Linked DNA regions of Homo sapiens: region 2 is linked to region 1. Evidence: fine-mapped expression QTL. A gene starts in region 1. The other region holds a variant in brackets. All regions are shown on one strand. Distances are from middle to middle. Region 1 holds the start of LUM (lumican). Region 2 has its middle 51 kb from the start of LINC00615.

What was found. PIP is the estimated chance that this variant, and not a neighbour inherited with it, causes the effect.
Region 2: its variant is fine-mapped to the expression of LUM in coronary artery (GTEx, PIP above 0.99).

The regions. Positions count from the first base shown.
Region 1 is chr12:91,105,831-91,117,215 of GRCh38, reverse strand. It overlaps LUM (lumican), which reads left to right and starts at 5,722. Exons shown (of 3, transcript NM_002345.4): 1 at 5,722-5,818; 2 at 8,216-9,098. The coding sequence starts at 8,237.
Region 2 is chr12:90,860,901-90,872,285 of GRCh38, reverse strand. No RefSeq gene overlaps it. Among named protein-coding and RNA genes, the nearest start is that of LINC00615, 51 kb to the left of the region's middle. The variant A/G (reference allele first, on the strand shown) is at 6,759.

The sequences.
Region 1 (11,385 bases):
ATATATGAAGGAGTTCTCTGAATTATGGGAAAGAGCACCCTTCTCCAAAGAAAGTAAGCGAAAATTAAAATAGGCAACAGAAATATAATGAAAACCAATAAATAATGTTAATAAATATTATTAATAAATAATGAAATAATATTTACATTTCAATTGTATATATTAATAATTTGATTTATTTTGTCTTATACAACAAAACATTTTAAATATTTTTATGGTAACAACTGAATTCTAGCAACATTTTGAGACCAATCATTCAGATTTTACAGAAAAATGAGCTAAATAGTTAATTGTAGATGTAATGGACTCTAAAAGCCAAAAATTATTTGTTATAGCTTTCAAACTGGAAATTGCAAAGCCACTGACCATTTTACTAGATAAAGCAAATTGCATGGTCTGAGAAATACGCACAAACGCTGAAGACTACAAAACCCTTGCTGAATGTCTGCTGGACAAAAAGTCAGCAAAATAAATTACAGCGAGCTACTTTCCAATGATACAGTAATTAATCAAAATAAAGATTTACTCAAGACATGAAGATTGAATTAATACTATATCTGTGGATTGTACTTTTGCCTTACAAATGGACAAATCTACAGCTGACTCTGGTTGAACTAGCCACTTTTTTTCTGGAACCCGTTTTTAATTAAAAGTGTGGTTTGTCAGATTAGAGTATTTGGTAAATACACTCTCAAAAAATAAAGTCTATTTTTCGTTTCAAGAAAAACAACTGAGAGTAGTTGGCAAAATTTAAACTTTCGAGCAAAAATTAGAATTTGGAAATAGTAGAAAACCTTCGTTGATGTAATTTTAAATACCACATTGCAACTAGCCTTTGAGAAACTACCACTTGATGAGTTCTGATTGTTCTTCAAAAAGAAGAGTAGTTGAAAAAAATAAAAATACTATTCCAAAACAAGACTACAAAGATTACAAAATAGTGGTTTATTGGACAATAACTAGATTGCAGAAATAAAAGCAGACATAAACAAAGATAAATAGGAATACAGTAGTGTTACCGAGAACAAACTGGGTCATTGAAAACACATTTGTATTTGAAAATCATGACTATGGAAAATTCTGGAAAAAGTCAGAACACACAAGCAGATCTTCTACTAGCCATCAGAACAATGTCATTGTCAGATGTCCTGTGGCTTCTGGTAAAATTCAATGCTTACTTCTGAGATAATTAAATTGAGTTGAAATTGAGTTGGAATTTAAATGGAATAAAATTGAGTTGAAATTACCTAAAAAGGCTACTAATAATGCTTGTTTTCTCAATTAAATATTTATGTAGGGTGAGTTTTTCATTATATGCATCAATCAAAGCAACATATCTTAACAGATTGAACAAGGGAACAGACATAAAAATCCAGCTAACTTCAGACACATTAAATAGGTGTGCAAATATATAAGGCAATACCATTTTTCTCATTGTTTTTTTCTGGAACATGTTAATATTTTCACAAAAATGGTATTTATATTAACATGGCATGGACTTGTTATTTTTATCATAATGAATTACTTAAATGCTTTAAAATATTTCTCAGTTTTAATTTTGAATGTGATACACACTGGTAGATGGACTCCACATACGTCTTTGGGGTCCTCAAAACGTCAACAAATTTTAAGTACATAGAGTCCTGTAGGCAAAATGTTTGAGAAACGCTAGTCTGTGGGAACAGCACTTCAGTCAAAGAGAACAGCTGGTAAAGGACCTGAAGTAGGAACAGACTTCTCATATATCAGGTCCTGGGTAAAGGTCAAAATGGCTAGAATGTAAGGCAGAAGGAGGAAAGAAAATGGCATCAGGGAGTTTAGCCATGGTCAGATGCTTTAAGGTTTGATAAGCCTACACTTAAGGAATAAAGAAGGGAGACTGGCACTACCAGATATTATTTAAGAAATAAAACTTTAACAATTAGATCATAGATATTTTAAGCTTGATCATATTCAAACTTCATGAATGACTGGTGAAAAAGTGTATTCTCATCTACCTTTGATGGGAGTGATAAGCAGAACAACATTTTGGAGGTAATTAGGTAATAATTATAAAATTTTTAAATATGTGTACAAATTTGTGTTCTCCAGAAAGCCCACTTACTTTTGGGATTTTCCTTAAGCTATCTTGCACAAAACTTCCTCAATACAGCATTGCTTATCATGAGAAAAGAGGAATTTCTCCCAAAAGCAAATTTATGACTGTGCACTTACCTAAGTGAAGAAGTTATCTGAGTTCTGAACTGTCTGAGTTATCTCATAGGCTGCCATAAAAGAGGAAAGAGAAATGAAATTCTCTTGTGTATATAAGACATGTCTGAAACATCTGAATTAATAAAGTCTAAACAACAATTACTTATAGAAAGTGCAATTGGAGAGTTAGTTAAGCCAGGGGTTATTTAATGTTTAACCTTATATACTGCTATGCTGGTTAATGTTTTGGTATAGTGTTCCAATTTATATATATTACTCTTATAATGCACACTTATTACTGAAAAACATATAATAAACCATATCATTGATAATTCCAAAAATGTACTTGTCATGTAAGATACTAAGAAAAATAAAAGCAATTGTAGAGTAAGTTTGAAAATACATACAGCTATGAGTATAAGGACTATGTAAATAAAAGATAGTTTCATGACTTGTAAGATGCTAAAATTAAGAATGGGAATTAGATTGTTGTGAGAAGAGAAAAAATTCAAATCCACTCCACTCTATGATTTGAAAGCATAAACCATTTACTCAAAATATGCTTTCATTTAAAATGTATCTTTTGAGATAAGCAGAATAGACAAAGCAGGTACAACCAATTTAAAGATTAAAATTTCATTTTATGTGATAGTGCTTTGCAAATTTTAAGAGAAATCAAGTGTTCAATATTAAAAACTAACAACTACATTATGGTATATCCATATAACAGAATTTCATGTAGCAAATAAAAATGACAGTAGAGAATGATATTTAATGATATAGAAAAACATCAATGATTTACTGTTATATGAAAATGGGTCTGGCACTATAAGCATAATGTTATGATATATGTGAAAACCAAATTGTCTGTGTGTTTATGTTTATACCCACACATTAAGAAGATATACCAAAAGATAGTTATCTCTGGGATGGAATACTTAATTTATTCTTTTCCCCTGTAAGTCCAGGGCTGGGTTCAGAACACAGTGTGTGAAACAGTCATAACATGCTTTATTATCCTTGCTGGTCTCAGGTAACAGGGAATCCAGTCCCTGGGCTGAAGAGGGCAATTCCATCTTTTTTTTTTTTTCTTTTTAATTTAAGTTCCGGGATACATGTGCAGAATGTTCAGGTTCGTTGCTTAGTTACACATTTGCCATGGTGGTTTGCTGCCGCTATTGACCCGTCATCTGGGTTTTAAGCCCTGCATGCATTAGGTATCTTTCCTAATGCTGTCCTTCCCCGTGCCCACCAACCCCTGACAGGCCCGGGTGTGTATTGTTCCCCATGTTCTCACTCATAAGTGGGAGGTGAACAATGAGAACTCCCATCATTTTAACCTGTATTGTGATGAAATGCATTTAGCCTCCAATGCTCATTATCACCAATGATGTGAATCACCATTGGCCAGGATGGAATGTTTATACGTTACCCAAAAGTTCTGAGATGTGGATGTGGCTATGCATGTTATATGTTAGTGTGTAATGTAAAAGGAAAGAAACTATTGCTTAATTAACATTTGACTTTTTAAATAACTATTGCCTATTTAATATTTCTGCTTTTTCTCAACTGATAGTAACATTGTCTATAAAGTATTTTAAGCTGATTGAGTGAACTACATTGTCTCAGCTCCATCCTGTTCACCCTCTTCCCAGTGAGTGAAGATGTTCATGGTTTTATTCTTACATTTACTTGTTAGGTGACTTTTAGCAAATGAATGAGACTTTCTGACTCTCCATTTATACTCCTGAAAATAGAGTAGTAAAACATACCATAGGAATTTTAATGTATGAAATTTAAAGGAAGAAATGTGAAAACTCTGAGTATAAATCATGGAATATATTAGATCCACTATAAATGTTAATTTCATTTCTTTCTATTGGACCCTGAAAATATGCTCTGAAACGCACAAAATTATTCAATTATTGGTTTCACAGAACTGATTTTATTAAAAAGTATATGTTGACAAGACTTTACAATGAGCTAAATCCAATATAATGCATTTGAGGTCTGTTATAAATACCACAACACATGTATTGCTTTATAAAGAAAAATCTTAAGGAATGGATAGGTGGAGTTTTTCTAACAAGAGCTCAGATTATAGAATTTGATACACTCAAAATTAATACATAGCATTGTTTTAAGAATCCTCTTATAACAAGATCACTTAATTATATTCGATTGATTTGTCTTTTTTTCTTAATTCCTTATAAATTTATTCAGTTACTTTGTTGAAACTGAGGCCTATCAATAATTTTCTTAAAATAATATTAGGAAAAATGTTATGTTTATGAATCATCTTACAATTCCATTAGTTACTTTCAAGAAGATTACTTTTTGTTTTTGAACACTGCTATTACAAAAATAAGCCATTTATTCTAATAGTCTTTTTTTCGGACAAATGCAGTATTAGTCATGGAGTTAATTTTCCACAAGTCTCACTGCTAAAATGTGATATAGTTATTTTTAAAGACAAAAATACAATGTGACAACTTATATTAAAATATATTGGTGTAAAAGTTCTTATAAACATGAGGAAATGAACATTTTAGAAAAAAATCTCATAAATATATCTGATAAAATCACAAAATGAAATAGACAAGGATTTAAGTACATCTCTCATTTGCTGAAACCATGCATCAGGAGCTGATAATGAAAGATATATCCAGCCAGGCCTTTGGGAGATTATAACTTTGAATAACTTTTAACTTTGAAAAAAAATTACTAGCATGCAATGAAAGATTCTTGCCTTGTGATACTTTTAGTATAAATTTATTTTTTTCTCTGTTCTTTTATGTTTTTTGGCATTAAGCTATAGAATGCTCTCCCCAAGTAAGGTTTTGGGTGAATTCCTAAACGAAATCCACAAAATAAAAAACAGGCAAGACTTTGCTGATTGGTTCCAGACCTGAATAACATAAAATGAGTCTCCTTAGCATTAGAAGTAAACTTGAAATGTTGATATTTATCATGTGTATCCAAGTGTATATGAAGCATATTTTATATTTTTAAAACTAATGTAAGCTACCCTCATGGCCAAAAAATTAAGTTAGTCCAAGTAAATCAATATTGATTTCAAAAGTGATAGGCAAAGGGATTCAATTCCTCTGAGTCTGTTCATTTGCGTTTTCCTGAAATTATTTGCCCTGCTTATGATTTCTGAGATCTTTAGATAAACATGATAGTTGGCTGAGCACATTGCACTTAATTGTTGCCACAGCCACAGATGTAAAGAGGCTTGTAAGAAAAATGTTCTCACAGTGAGCTTCCTTATTTGAAGCAGGACTCAATTCTTGGTTAAAAGCTATGGTATTTGAGCTAGTTAAACACATATCTCTCTCCCATTCCATAGGGAATGAGCTGGGCTGTCCTTTCTCCCCACGTTCACCTGCACTTCGTTAGAGAGCAGTGTTCACATGCCACACCACAAGATCCCCACAATGACATAACTCCATTCAGAGACTGGCGTGACTGGGCTGGGTCTCCCCACCCCCCTTCAGCTCTTGTATCACTCAGAATCTGGCAGCCAGTTCCGTCCTGACAGAGTTCACAGCATATATTGGTGGATTCTTGTCCATAGTGCATCTGCTTTAAGAATTAACGAAAGCAGTGTCAAGACAGTAAGGTAAGTGCTGTTTTAACTATTGCACTGGGGATGTTAACTGTTTGGGACAGCGTTTTTTGTAACAGGAACAGGAAAAATTCCAGAGCAATTTTGCCAATTGCTATTCAACAGCAAATCCACAGTTCTGAGCATTTAGTTTCACATTTTGTTAATATGTTTTCCATGATTTATAGATTTGAGATTTTATACAGTATATGCTGTATTGCTTGGCAAGAGAAGTTATAAAAAGTTTCAAGGTTAGAATGAGAAAATAGTTAAAGTAGACACAGTGAAAAAATATAGAAATTAATATGTTTGTTATGTATGCTAGTTAGTTATATATGTTAGTATTGGACCCTAATACTGGAGCAAAGAAAAGTCATTTTAATCAGCATTCAAAATATCTTTTAATAAGCATATTGTGACAATTTGTTATAATTTACAATAAACGTTCTATGTTATAAAACATGAGCTAAAAGATTTAGGAACTCTTATGGATTATTTATTTCTGTTTTGTTAATTTAAAAAATTTGTTTCTTGGATATATGCCTTAAGGAACGAGTTTTTTAAAAAGTTCTGGGAAATGATTTCGTTTTTGAAAACAGCATTTTCTCTATAGCCACAGGTATTTGAAAAAACTGAGGGTAGTACAGTGTGATTTTGCCTCATAGTGGAGTCATTATATGGTTGCAAACTCTCATTCAATTCAGCATCCTTGTTTTTACTTTGCCAAAAAATATGGAAGCATTTTTCATTACTATTTAATACTCACATTATAGTTGCCATATTTTGGTGTATAGTAAATTTAAAATAGCTTATTAATAAAGCAAGACAAATCTTTACAGTATTTACATTCTATAACTTAAAATAACTCTGGGAATATGTCATCACGTTCTTTTTAGTGCTATGCAATTATTATTATGGCCAAGTTCTGTCAGCAAAATTAAATGCCCCCATTAAAATCTTAGAGAGTAATTTACTGAGAATCTGGCTACATGTTACCTTATGTCAGCAATCAAAGTATTTCTAAAAGCTGTTTTATAACGTTCCATCTGATCTGAAATAAAGTGCCTTACAATTTCAAATTAAAACAAATAAAAGACGTTTTCAGTTTCTAACCCCAAAGATCCTGCTTATCCCAAACTACTTTGATCCAAAAGCTTGTAATCATACTTTCATAGAAAGATATAATATTCTCAGTTATCTATTAGAATGTAGATCTTTCGTCACATTAATGATTTATCTCCCAGGGCTACCAACTTTGCCTCAGCCACAACTGTTCACTCTATAAAAGTCTAACTCTTATATTCCAATTTTCCCATATCTAAATTGCTGCACCTAAGACATTGAAATGTACTTTTTTGAGCCTCACCTTAGAAACATGTTCCTATGAGAAGATAACTGTTACACATTATTTCAAATTCATATTCTCAATTGAATAATTTACTAGATAGTTCTAACACCAGTATTAAATCCAAACTTTAAAAACATCACACCTCTCTCCCACCTCCATTCTGTGAGGCCACTAAAAGCCAGATATGCAAACCATGGCATCTTCGATTTTGGCATGAAGAAAGTAGAGAACTTGTGAGTAATTGAGAGAGACTATAACTCTAATTGAAAACTTGGAAAATACTATCTTTCTCTACCTGTTGAATCTCTTTCCAGAAAGAGAAACCTTCAGAATGTGTGACATTTTCCTGATAAACATTAGCAATTATTAAATATTACTAATATTTTGTTTAGTAAATAGCTAATTTATGAAATATTAGTTCCAGAACACAGTTTTGCAATGTGCTTTAAAAAGTGTAGAATGTTAAGCACAACATGAACTAGTATGCATGCACACCAGCACCAAGAATTCTGTTCTCCTTCCTCAGAACCAACAGTAACCAGACACTTTTAAAGGAATGTGCCTTCCATTTCCCTCCCACATACAAGCAAAACCTCAGGTTGCCCATATTCCCGTAAGGATCTTCTTCATGAGTCATTTTAATGATGTCGAATGGTAGGGTAGAGTATACAGTTAAAAACTGTCTTCTCATTCTCTTTTTTTGAGAGATGATCTGAAGCAGTAGTCTAATTCGGTGGTCAATGAACACCACCCAGAAACCTCTTACAGGAAGGCATTTCATTAAGGAAGAGCCTGGAGATTGACTGGAACAATTAGGCTGGGCTCGCCCAGAAGGGGGCGCACGTGTACGCAATCTAACCTGAAAGCTGCTCACTACATAGTTGTAAACATACACCTTTGTCCTCATACCTAAATAAAAATTTAAAAGACGCTGTTAGATGCACTAAAAATAGCTATAAAATAACAAAATGCACATTTTCTAATGAATTTAATGTTGCAAATTGAATGTCTTTTTCTTGAAAGTATATATTTTTTTAATTAATAAATGTTTCATCTTTATTTAGGATTCAAACCATTTGCCAAAAATGAGTCTAAGTGCATTTACTCTCTTCCTGGCATTGATTGGTGGTACCAGTGGCCAGTACTATGATTATGATTTTCCCCTATCAATTTATGGGCAATCATCACCAAACTGTGCACCAGAATGTAACTGCCCTGAAAGCTACCCAAGTGCCATGTACTGTGATGAGCTGAAATTGAAAAGTGTACCAATGGTGCCTCCTGGAATCAAGTATCTTTACCTTAGGAATAACCAGATTGACCATATTGATGAAAAGGCCTTTGAGAATGTAACTGATCTGCAGTGGCTCATTCTAGATCACAACCTTCTAGAAAACTCCAAGATAAAAGGGAGAGTTTTCTCTAAATTGAAACAACTGAAGAAGCTGCATATAAACCACAACAACCTGACAGAGTCTGTGGGCCCACTTCCCAAATCTCTGGAGGATCTGCAGCTTACTCATAACAAGATCACAAAGCTGGGCTCTTTTGAAGGATTGGTAAACCTGACCTTCATCCATCTCCAGCACAATCGGCTGAAAGAGGATGCTGTTTCAGCTGCTTTTAAAGGTCTTAAATCACTCGAATACCTTGACTTGAGCTTCAATCAGATAGCCAGACTGCCTTCTGGTCTCCCTGTCTCTCTTCTAACTCTCTACTTAGACAACAATAAGATCAGCAACATCCCTGATGAGTATTTCAAGCGTTTTAATGCATTGCAGTATCTGCGTTTATCTCACAACGAACTGGCTGATAGTGGAATACCTGGAAATTCTTTCAATGTGTCATCCCTGGTTGAGCTGGATCTGTCCTATAACAAGCTTAAAAACATACCAACTGTCAATGAAAACCTTGAAAACTATTACCTGGAGGTCAATCAACTTGAGAGTAAGTAAAAAGCTGTTCCTGTGTTTGATGTGTGCTCAAGTGTTTAAATACCTGGGCTGCACAACACAGATATTGCATCTGGCTCCATTAAAAAAACAAAATGTCGCCCGGGCGCTGTGGCTCATTCCTGTAAATCCAGCATTTTGGGAGGCCGAAGTGGGCGGATCACCAGGTCAGGAGTTGAGACCAGCCTGGCCAACATGATGAAACCCCATCTCTACTAAAAATACAAAAATTAGCCAGGCGTGGTGTCGCACTTCTGTAATCCCAGCTACTCAGGAGGCTGAGCCAGGAGAATTGCTTGAACCTGGGAGATAGAGGTTGCAGTGAGCCGAGATCGTGCCACTGTACTCAAGCCTGGGCAAGACAGCCAGATTCTGTCTTGGAAAAAAAAAAAATGTCCACAAAATATCCCTCTACTTCAAACAAAGAATAATTCTAGCTCAATCATATATCCAATATCCAGCCTTTCTTTGGTGTATCCAGATAAGGAACAATTAAGGTCACAGAATTTAATATGTAAGTCTTCAAACTAAAAATTCCGGGCCAACTCATCCTGCTGTGTTACCTCCTCATATATATCTCTTATTATTTTCTCCTTTATGGCTTAGATTTGTGTCCTACATTTATTTTTTGACAAGATCTAGATGAGGGAGGAAGAAATGAGTTCAAAAGTGGCACAGTTGGCAAACTCCATAGCCACAAAGAAGCCCATATTGTCCCTCCCTCCCTCCCTCTCTCTCTCTTTTTCTTTCTTCCTTCCTTTCTTTCCCTTTCTTTCTTTCTTTCTTTCTTTCTTTCTTTCTTTCTTTCTTTCTTTCTTTCTTTCTCTTTCTTTCTTTCTTTCTTTCTTTCTTTCTTTCTTTCTTTCTTTCTTTCCTTTCTTTCTTTCTTCTTTCTCTCTTTCTTTCTTTCTTTTTCTTTCCTTCTTTCTTTCTTTCGTTTTCTTTCTTTCTTTCTTTCTTTTTTTTTTTGACAGGGTCTCACTCTGTCGCCCAGACTGGAGTGAGGTGGTGCAATCTCGGCTCATTGCAACCTCCACCCCCCAGGCTCAGGCGATTCTCCCACCTCAGGCCACCACCACCACCAGGCTAATTTTTATGTTTTTAGTAGAGATGGGGTTTCACCATGTTAACCAGGCTGTTCTTAAAATCCTGACCTCAACTGATCCATCTGCCTTGGCCTCCCAAAGTACTGGGATTACAGGCGTGAGCCACTGTGCCTGGCCCCATATAGTCTCATGGTCTTCCCTGACATCAACTACTTGGGACTCACCATGTTACTCTGCTGTCATGATCATCATCTGCCTCTGTTATCTCTGTTATGGTGTGTGGCCATCACAGTGCTCTGGAGGACTGTGAAGAAGATTAAAGAGAAAAAGAAATATGATGGGAGATTCTAACATCTTTTTTTTTTTTTTTTTTTTTAGAAGAAAAATAGTGTTACAGAGCTTTTTTTTTCTTGGGTACAATCCTGCCCCTCATTTGATATTTCCACACTTTCTCTTTCTCCTCTCTTTATTTTTCATTTATCTTCTGGATGAAGTTTGATCTGATGCATTTGGACTGCTTATGCACTTATGTGGTCTTCAGGGACATTCTTCAACTTAAGCAGTATAGATTCCAATGGGAAATTGAAATCCACCATTTCCTACCAGGATAACTCTGCCATTAATCTTTGGCAGAGCTTGGTAGAAGAGAAAAACCATGATTCACAGATAAGGCTTTCTAAATGAAAAAATCAAGCAGGAAACATTGATTCACATATAAAGTAATAATGTCTGCAAAATAATCTATTGAATTTGAACATCTCTACATGATGAAAATTGGTTTTCTGGCCATGCTGAATAAAGGTATTGCTGTCAGAAAATATTACAATATATTTTATGCATATGATGTTTGTTAATTCTGCCAGTTTCATATAACCTCTAGTAGGGTTAAACGTTTTCATAAAGAAGACCATACTCGCCAACTCTGAAGCTCCACATGTTCTTTGTTGTTTCTGAAAAGCAGCCAAGGTAAGGGTTGGTGCTGTTTGACTGTCACACAATACACAGTCAGGCTAACACAGCTAAACCCCTCTTGTTGTTTCCAGTGGAAAATTCACTATGTGGCCATATGTGATTCCTCATTTTAAACATATGTGGTTAGGAGGAAGGATACTCTCTGACAGACCAAAATGCTAAAGGAATTTACGATGCTTAAGGGATGACGGAGTACATTAGATTTGGTGGGTAGAGATTATTCGTAAGAGCAGGGCTACTTCTTTCTCTGAAACAAAGAAGGAT
Region 2 (11,385 bases), 240 kb after region 1:
TAAAGTGTGTACTTTGTGAGTTAATGAAATATGAGGAACACATATAATTTTCCTGGAGATGATAAAAAAAATTTGTACTGTCCAATCAAAAGATAATTAAAACTTATCTTCCTATGTCCCACTTGACTTAAAAAAATGGAGCGCTATAGAAGTTATAAGATGTATCCTTATATTCCTAAAATGATATCACTTTTCTTCTTTAACTTCTGGAGTTTACCTGGTTTCCAAGTGAATAAAAAGTTTCCAAGTAAGAGGGCATACTTACTATTTGATAACAGAGCTGTATTATTAAGCCATAAATGTCCGGCTTTCTGATGTCTGACACACAGTGGCAAAGTCTTATACATTCAGGAAGAGCACTTTGTCTCTAAAAGGTTGCCCCAGTGACTCCTTCCAAGATGCTAACATTCTTTTTGAACACTGGATTCCATCAAGAATTGCTCATGCAATGTCAAGTTAATTATTAATTTCATAATTTATTCTCAAGGACAAGGCTCCCTAAGAATGATGCTCCCTTAAGACGAATCTTAGACTAATTTTACAGATATACAGCCACTAAAATGTAAACAACCTAATACCAAATAGAAACTAACTGCAAAGAGAGAGAGAGACTAGACAATTTTCTTTCTGAAATAATAAGAGTTTAAAATCTACACATGGAATATATTACTTACATTCATTTTTAAGTCTGAAAACAGTGAATCATATGGATGGATGGTTTTGCTGGCAGCAAATACGGAGAAGGCCTTAAGGCAGCAAGTATATGTTAAGTATTAGGTCCTAGGGGAATACTATAATAATTACATATAGCCACTAGCCTTAAGAATATTATAATGACATGAAAAGCAATGCCAATTTTAAAAAATTAATATCCATTAAATTAAATTTGTTGTGTAAAGTATTCTTTAATGTGAGAGCCAAAACAAGCATACTAGAAAATATAAATAAAAATATATTTCTAACTCTATTTATAGGGTTCCTGAGCATTATAGAAATGGAAGATGGTAAAAGTGGGGAAATTTCTATTTTAGGCATATGTGAATATATTATGTAACTTCTGCAGTATTCACATTTTTGATTTGCATATGGTGTCACTTGCCAGAAGCAGATATTTTATGCATAACCACAGATGGGAGCTGTTAGCTGGGATTTTGTCTTCAGCTCATCATCATTAGATATTAACTGGAATGGATCAGTACCTACCTGCAGGCTCTCACAAGCAGAAAAAAGAAAACAAAGCAGAGTTAATCAGTTTGAAGATCACAGTTCAACTGGCTGTAAGGAAAGCATCACACATTATGGAAAATATTTGGCATATATTCTTCAAAATTAAATTGGTTGTACTTGAGTACTTGTAGAGTGTTTAAAAGGAAACTATGATGCTCTAAAAAGTCCAGGTCAGGACTGTGAAAGAAATGAGAGTTCACCATTCCCTTGTACTAGCTCTGGGACAATACCCCTGAAAATCTATCAAAATAGAGGCAAGAGTGTAAAACTGATGCAACGTTTCAAAATAATTTCCCTTTAAATTTTATCAAGTTTGAAAACGCTTATATCAATGAAATTTACAAATATGCTTTATCAAGTTATTGTTCATATTATAATATAATACAGGTTTGTTTCATTCACATAATAGAGGATAATGACTTTTTAAAAAGATTGCTCTATGTCTTATGTCTTATACCTTCAGAATATTTCGTATCTTTTATTGATTATCTTGTATTTAAACAACATGAGTATAATGGAAACATATTTAAGAACAAAAAGTTAAAGACAATTCAAAAGAAGTAAATAGGAAAGAAAGGTTATGTTAATATTATTTGGCTTCTGGTTTTACACAGTTACTTCAAGAAATTTTCTTTGGGAGGTGTGAATTTTTAATTTTATAGTTTTTTATTTTTTTTATTTTTTAGAGACTAGTCTTGCGCTGGCATGCAGTGGCACAATCATAGCTCACTGCAGGCTTCTACCTTGAATTCCTGGGCTCAAGTGATCCTCCAGCCAACCTTGGCTTCCCAAAGTCCGGGAATACAGGCATGAGCCACTACACCCAGCCTGGATTCTGATCTCAGCTCCGTCACTCTAAAGTTCAATTTCATTTGTGTGACATTCAGATGCTAAATTCTATATTTATTTCACAAGCTTCTTAGGAGGATTGAATAAGACCATAAGCTCCAGAGCACCATTCAGATTACATATTAAAAATCATTTCCAGAGCCTTGTGCAAGGATGGGAGAAAAGACAGGGGAGAAAGACATATTCAGAATGAGAAGAACTATTCCAGATTGATAGGGGAAGGAGAGGCGAAATAAAAAAGAGAACACTCACCTAGCATTTCCCATCAAACTGCCATTTCCTCCAATTGTTTTTTATTTTTATTTTTATTTTTTCTTCTGGCAGGGGTTGGCAACTTCTGAACAGGTAAGCCAGATTTTATTATTTCTTTCTTTGAGTGTAGTTGTGAAAGAAGGTAGCTCCTAAAGAGAAAAGGCAGAGATGTGTTTCTGACACTCCATGTTTAGGAAGCTCCTCTGGTCACATGTGTTTACTGGGAGAAAGCAATGAAAAGTTTTGACAATTCTGTACACTTCTCAAATATTACTTATTTGGTAAAGCAACGGGCCCCTTTCTACAATAATATTAATAGTTGTCATCTAATTTTTTCTAAGTTTAAATTTTTGAACAATGGCTTTATTAAATAAACCCAGAAGTATCAACTATGTCTTAAATATTGTTGTAAGTGAGAGAGAGACTAGTGGAGATTAAGTACAAGACTTTCCTTGAAGAATTTGCAATTTGATTTAGAAAATAAGACGCGTATGGCCAGGCGCGGTGGCTCACGCCTGTAATCCCAGGACTTTGGGAGGCCAAGGTGGGCGGATCACAAGGTCAGGAGATCGAGACCATCCTAGCTAACACAGTGAAACCCCGTCTCTACTAAAAATACAAAAAATTGGCTGGGCGTGGTGGCGGGCGCCTGTAGTCCCAGCTACTCGGGAGGCTGAGGCAGGAGAATGGCGTGAACCCGGGAGGTAGAGCTTGCAGTAAGCCGAGATAGCGTCACTGCACTCCAGCCTGGGTGACAGAGCGAGACTACATCTCAAAAAAAAAAAAAAAAAAAAAGAAAGAAAAAAAAAGAAAAGAAAATAAGACATGTGTACAGGCAATAAACAAAGAGAAAGCCATACAAAGTTAAATATATTGTTTTCCAAGCACCAGATTATATGGCAGTGGGTATGAAATGCTGTAGAAATTCAGCAAAGAAACGGTAAGTTAAGAAAAAACACTCTGCAGTTCCATGCAACTCTTAAAGTAGGAACAGAACTTAGAAATCACATATGTAGACAATCCTCTTATATACAAACAGACTTCAAGCTCCAGCAGATAATGTAGCTTAAGTTAGAGGTGACTTGAGAACTAAAATCCTAATTTTCAACACCCTAGTCACCTTGTGCTAAACAAAACTTGACATTGGCAGTGGAGGCTGGGCAGGCTTTGGATGATAAGGGGAGTTAGTATTTTAGGAAAGCAGTTGGGTAAACTGTAAAATGAACAGCTTTAGGAGCTGGCTATATTTTATTATAGCAATAGATCCTTTATGAAAGTAGCTTTATTGATTTATAGGATTAATCACATTAACAAAGAACTTTGTTTCACACATTGGAGAGCCATCAAATAAGTATTTGCTGAATATAAAAGCATAAAGATAACTTGATTTATGTAATGGAATCTATTTTATTTTTTTTTCTTTACAATTCTAGAAGAATGGATGATAGAAACAATAGTAACCTCACAATTAATGTTTTTAACTAGGAAATAGTGATTTTGTGAATTTAGTATTTGGAGATTACATTTCCAGCTCTCCATCTACCACAAATGAACACTTTTTGTGTTCACCTTTATATTATGAACACCTTTTGTGAACACCTTTATATGCTCAACTGAAAGGGAAAAGTAAGTAATCTCATATTCTCTTTCTGAGTCATCATTCAGACTTTAAAATGAACATCTGTTTGGGTGATGGACAAACATCATTTGTGAGCTAATATTTGAAGAAAACAATGCAATATAAGCCTTAAATGCTGCCATTATATACCTGAGACTAGTTTTTTCTTTGATTTCTAATTGTTTAAAATTCCTATCATAATTTTGAACCTATTTTATTGATTTTTTATTCACTTTAAATAAACTAACATTTATTTAGTGCATACTCTGGGTCAAATACTATGTTTGGTGCTAAAAATATGGAGATGGAATGGCAATTCCTTTGCCAAATAAAACGATAATTAAGGCATACTACAGTGAGACATACTTTAGAATCCATTATACCTAAGGTACTTTAAATATGCTACGTAATTTAATTTTTATAAAAATATATAAATTATCCCTTTTATAGAAGATGAATAGAAATATTGCCTAGCATAAAGTAAAACCCACAAAAACATAGACAGAAAAATGTATAACATCTTATTAATTACAAATAGAAAATGTTTTTGTATTTTAAAAACTTCTAAAAAATGTTATCTTTATTTTTCTGTGTTTGAATTTAAACATGAAATTTATGAATACAATTCAGATTTTTCAAAAATAACCATTGAAAATGGTTTACATACTGAAATATTTACATTTAAACAAATTATCTGAAAATAAAAAAATGTATTTTACTTATTATCTCAATTGTTTTTGAAGAGATGTCGGCTTGGGGAGATGATTAAGCGTTTACAGGGCAGTGAATAAATGTAAACTATTCCTTTATATGTCTTAAAAACACAAAAGAAAATAGTTTCGCGACTGCAGTTATTAGAACAAAAGCTATTTAGCCTTTATTCCTGTGCTCTGACTGGGAAACTTTAATAATGATTTAAGACCTATTTCATATGCCCCTCTTATTCAATTACTAACACATTTTATTATTAGTCATATGTTCTGTTAGATGATGCAAAAAATAAGAAAATATAGGTTCTATAACCTCAGGATGCTACCGATCTATTAAAGAGGCAGATATCAAGAAAATAATTAAAATATAATCAAAAAGTTGCTTATGTCTATTAATCAATCAAATAAAAAAACCACTTTAAATTATTCAAGTATTAAATTTTAATATAAGGAAATAGAAGCTTAAACAATCGTTGCAAGGTGTGGTAGAAATGAAACGGCTTCATCCCATTCCGCCCAAAGGATTTCCGCAGGTGGTTTGGTCAGCAGATGGTTTTCAGCTGTTTGCTTTTTAAAGGTCTGCTTCAGCTACAACAGCTTCCTTCATTCATGGTCACACCATTCCTGGAGCAGCTCACAACTGGTGACAGCCAAGAGTGGTTATAAAACCAAGCCATTTTAACCCAGTATAGCGCAACTTTAATAGAAATCATCACTCCATAGCTTCCTATCAGATTGACTGAAAATTTTCAGGTCTGCATCACGGTTTGACCTCTTTTTTTCCCCTATCTAGTTCTTCCATCTTCCTTTCACAGTGGATCCCTGATAAACATCTTGCATCCTAAATATGGTCTCAGCCCCTGGTTCTGGAAAATGCCAACCTGAACAGAAGAGCTGGGGGACCCCAAGTCAGGAAAGTTGCCATGGAAAATCTCAGTCTGTTCTTGCACTGCTATAAACAATTACCTGAGACTGGGAAATTTATAAAGAAAAGAGTTTAAATTGACTCACAGTTCTTCTGCATGCTATACAAGAGGCATAGCTGGGGAGGCCTCAGGAAACTTACAATCATGGGAGAAGGCAAAGGGGAAGCAGGCACATATTCACATGGCCAGCAAGAGAGAGTGAGTGGGTGGGAGAGAGGTACTACACTATTGTTTTCTTTCTTTCTTTCTTTCTTTCTTTCTTTCTTTCTTTCTTTCTTTCTTTCTTTCTTTCTTTCCTTCTTTTCTTTCTTCTTTCTTTCTTCCTTCCTTCTTTTTTTTTTTTTTTTTGAGACGGAGTCTTGCTCTGTCATCCAGACTGGAGTGCCGTGGCATGATCTCGGCTCACTGCAACTTCTGCCTCCCAGGTTTAAGCGATTCTTCTGCCTCAGCTTCCTGAGTAGCTGGGACTACAGGTGTGCACCACCACACCTGGCTAATTTTTGTATTTTTAGTAGAAATGGGATTTCACCATGTTGACCAGGATGGTCTAAATCTCCTGACCTCGTGATCCACCTGCCTCGGCCTCCCAAAGTGCTGGGATTACAGGCGTGAGCCACTGTACCTGGCCTAGAGAGATGCTACAAACTTTTAAACAACTAGATCTCCTGAGAATTCTACAGTGAGACAGCACTAGGGGGATGGTGCTAAACCATTAGAAACCACCCACATGATCCAATCACCTCCCACCATGTCCCATCTCAAACACTGGGGATTACAATTCAATGTGAGATTTGGATGGGGACAAAGAGCCAAACCATATCAGTTGGCAACACCAAAGACTGTCTTTCTATCTTTATCTCCCCATCAAAACTATTTTCGTAAATGTTATTAATGTTTCCTTGTTGCTGAAACCAATGAGCTTCTTTCAGATCTTTATTCGACAAGCAGGAACTGATGCTGATAGCCACTCCTTTCTCTCAGGCTTGTTTCTTCTCTTGTCCAGATGGCGACTAAGAGCCTCAACTCAGGCTCTGAATCCCCTGTCTACCATCAATTAGCTGTGAGACCTTGAGAACATTATGTAGCCTCTCTGTGCCTCACTTTCCAGTCTGTAATATGGTGATAATCATTATATCTACTTGACAAGACTGTTGTAATGATTAAATCTATGTATGT[A/G]TGTAAAGTGTTTAGAATAGTGCCTGCTACATAATAATCACTATACGTGTGTCTTCTATTTTCATCCTGTTGTTCCACGTTATCTTGTTTTTTCCTCCTTCTGACAGTTCCTTATAAGCCTATTCACTTTATCTCCCTTTGTGTCCCAACTGCTGCCTTAAATTTTGATGCTATCTTTTCTTGACTTTTTCCTTGTGTTTCTCTAAATCATCTGACACATATCTAGTTTAAAACAGGCCTTATTTCTAAGTAGCAGACCCAAGTTTTCAACTTTCTACTGAATACCTACTTCTTAGTATCTCATAGGCATTGAAACGCAACATATCTTCATATGGATTATTTTTCTTCCCCATCTCCTCCCAAAAAGAGCACAAAACAAAACTCAGTGAATGGTACTACTAAGGTTATGTATATTCAGTTGCCTAAATCAAAGTACAGACTGAGATCCCCCTAACCCATATTTGTCACATCCCCAGAGCGTACAAAAAAAGTGATCAGCAACATTAATATGTATATATTCCATAGCACTCTTTGAATTTCTTACCTCCTTTCTACACCCATTGCCACTACCTTAGTTTAGGCTTTTTTTTTTTTCAACATTTCCAGCTCCTAACTGGCCATTCTAAATTTCAATCACATTCTCCAACCCATTTCCCTACTATAGTCAGTCAGCTTGACTTTTCTAAAATGAATGTCTCTTTACATCTTCTCTTGCTTAATGCTCTCTGCTTATTTGCCTACATTCTTCAAGAAGAACTCTTAAATCTTTTGTGTGACATACAATGCTGTGCATAATCTATCCCATATTACTTGTTTTATATCATTTCTAGCTAATCTCACATTATGCCCCAACTTTATGCCCCAATCTATCTGAAAAGAGTGTAATTTTCCAAGTGTTATTTAATCCTGTACACATGTTCTTCTGTTTGCCTAAAATGCCACCTCCATCACAAAAAATTTCTGCTTTGCAATTGATGCTTATCGAACAACCACAAAATGTGAGTTGTGTCTATGTACACAGCTGGGATTCAGCTGGTTAGTCAGCTTATTTAAGTTGGGCTTTGCTCGAAGTGTCTCTCATCTTCCCCTTGGAGCTTGTGGGCCATCCTGGGCATGTTATTTCCGTGGTGATGGTAGAGATGCAAGAGGGAATGTGAAAATATGCAAGATCCCTTAAGGCCCAGTCACAAAACTAGACAACAGTCACTTCTGCCTAATAATTGGTCAAACCAAATGACATGTGTCTATTCTGAGTAAAAAAGATGGGAAATATGTCCTCCATCTTTTGTGGGAGGGACTGCAAGGTCATATGGTAAAAGTGTGAGTGCAGTGAAAGAAGTATTAGAACTAGTAATAAAATCTACAACCCCCTATCCTTTGCCTTGCCTAATGATTCTGTAGGTTTCATTTCAGTCACTGCTTCTTCTAGATAGGTTGGCCTGGCTTTCAGTCTAATTTTGGTGTTCCTATGTGCTTTCCTAGTAGCTGGAACAGTTTATTTTGTCATTATGAGCACATATATAATTGTTATTTGCCAGGACCTTTATTTTTTCTTTCCATTGTACTAAATGTTCTTTTAGATAACAATTGTATTTGTTTTTATCCCACTCAGCAACCTAGAACATAGGATGTATACTCACTAATTGTTTGGGATATTTTTGAATAAATGGATACATAAAAACAGGAGTAATTGAATGAAACAATGAATGCATGAGTGTTGCAAAGAGAAGGTGATAAAGACCTGAACCAGGGCAGTAGTGATTAGAATAGAGGGGAAGTAATCAATGTAAGCCATGTTTAGGAGATAGAATTGGCAAGCCTCAGTGATAATTGATTGTAGGGGAAAGAGTAGTAGAAATAAGCAAGATATTTAGGATGTCTCTCAGGTATATGTTTAGAGCAGTTGAGTTAATTAAGCACCATTCACTTGAATAAGAAAAAAAGGAGGTAAGAAAATACTGGAGAGGAAAAAAAATAAAGATTTAAAGATGGTATATAGCTCTTCATTTCAACATGAACCCTACAATTAAACAATGCGTTACTAGGAATGTATATTTGGATAAAAACTCATCACATTAATATGGTGTAATTTATGTGGATATACATTTCAGAAGTTACATACTGAGATAAAGGAAAGATAATTCTGCATAAAATCTTACACTTAAAATTCAAGACCTTAAGACTGCCACCTGTCCTTAAGAGTCATGGAAAATCGGGCAACTCTGAACACTCTCAACTTCAGTTTCCAAATCTGCAAAATGGGGACAATCTAGATCACTGCGATGTCATGGGTTAAAATAAGACAATGTACTGGAAAACACAGCCTTGCAAATAACAAATAAACATAAGTATTTTATAACACTCCCTTTCAGGGTTTCTCAAACCTGATTGACATTTTGAGCCAGATGATTCTTCGTTAGGGTGAGGAGTGGGAGTTGTCCTGTGCATTTTAGCACGTTTGGTAGCATCCCTGGCCTCTATCCACCAGATGCAGTAGCATTCCCTAGTGTTACAACCAAAAATATCTCCAGGCATTGCCAGATGACTGCACTGGGATGGCAAGTGGGTATATCAAATCAATACTCCCCACTCCTTTTGACAACTACCACCGTATCTGAATCTGAACCTAGGCGGTAGATGGAAGTTGCAGGGTATTTTAGGAGGCAAGGAATTATTAAGATATAGACAGGAATATTTTCCATGCACAATTCACACTAGTAAACTGACTAAAGGAATCTTAGATAAAAATGGTCTATAGTCAATGCCATTCCCATGAAACTACAAACGACATTCTTCACAGAATTAGAATAAACTATTTTAAAATTCATGTGAAACCAAAAAAGAGCCCAAATAGCCAAGACAATCCTAAGTAAAAAGAACAAAGCTAGAGGCATCACGCTACCTGACTTCAAACTATACTACAAGGCTACAACAACTAAAACAGCATAGTACTGGTACATAAACAGACACATAGACCAGTGGAACAGAATAGAGAACTCATAAATAAGACCACACACCTACAACTGTCTTATCTTCGACAAACCTGACAAAAACAAGCAATGGGGAAAGAATTCCTTATTTACTAAATGGTGCTAGGAGAACTGGCTAGCCATATGCAGAAAATTGAAACTGGACCCCTTCCTTACACCTTATACAAAAATTAACTCAGAATGGATTAAAGACTTAAATTTAAAATCCCAAACTACAAAAACCCCACAAAAAAATCTAGGTGATACCATTTAGGATGTAGACACAGGCAAAAATTTCATGATGAATACCCTAAAAGCAATTGCAACAAAAGCAAAAATCGAAAAATGGGATCTAATTAAACTAAAGAAGTTCTGCATAGCAAAAGAAGCTATCATCAGATTGAACAAACAACCTACAGAATGGGAGAAAATTTTTTCAATCTATCCATCTGACAAAGGTCTAATATCCAGAGTCTAAAAGGAACTTAAACAAATTCACACAAACACACACACACACAAAACCAAACAACCCCATTAAAAATTGGGCAAAAGACATGAACAGACACTTCTCAAAATAATACATTTATGCAGTCAACAAACATATGATAAAAGGCTCAGATTCATTGATCATTAGAGAAATGCAAATCAAAACCACAGTGAGAGACCATCTCACATCAGTTATTATGTTGGTGCAAACGTAATTGCGGTTTTTGCCATTGTAAGTAATGGCAGCAGCCCAATAGAATGGCAATTATTAAAAAGTCCAGAAACAACAGATGCTGGCAAGGTTGCAGAGAAAAAGGATTGCTTTTACACTGTTGATGGGAGTGTAAATTAGACCATTGTGGAAGGTAGTGTGGTGGTTCCTCAAAGATCTAGAGACAGAAATACCATTTGACCCAGCAACCCCATTACTGGGCATACGCCCAAAGGAACATAAGTCATTCTAGTATAAAAATATATGCACACATATGTTCAATGCAGCATTATTCACAATAACAAAGACATGGAATCAACCCAAATGCCCATCAATGATAGACTGGATAAAGAAAATGTGGTACATGTACACCATGGAATACTGTGCAGCCATAAAAAGGAAAGAGATCATGTCCTTTGTGGGGACATTGGTGGAGCTTGAAAGCCATTATCTTTAGCAAACTAACACAGGAATAGAAAACCAAACACCGCATGTTCTCACTTCTAAGTGAGAGCTGAACAATGAGAATACTTGGACACATGGGTGGGAATAACACACACTGGGGCCTATCAGGGGTGGAGTTGGGGGAAGGAGAGCATCAGGAAGTACAGCTAAAAGATGCTGGGCTTAATATGTAGGTATTGGGTTGATCTGTGCAGCAAGCCACCAGGGCCCACGTTTACCTATGTAATAAACCTGCACATGCTGCACATGTACCCACAAACTTAATAAAAGTTGAAGGAAAAAATAAGTGGTCTAAATATCCAAAGCATAAAGTCGGTAGTATATCCTTCCACTTCTCCCACTTCTAACTCCATATCATGAATTCAATTGCTATCATCCATACTTTCTAAGTCTCCAGGTTATTCTTTAAAGCTAGAATATTCATCTCTAAGCTTCCTTTGGTCTTTTCCCCCCAGGATCTGTAAAAGTCAGTTCTCCAATTTTCCAAGCCTGAACT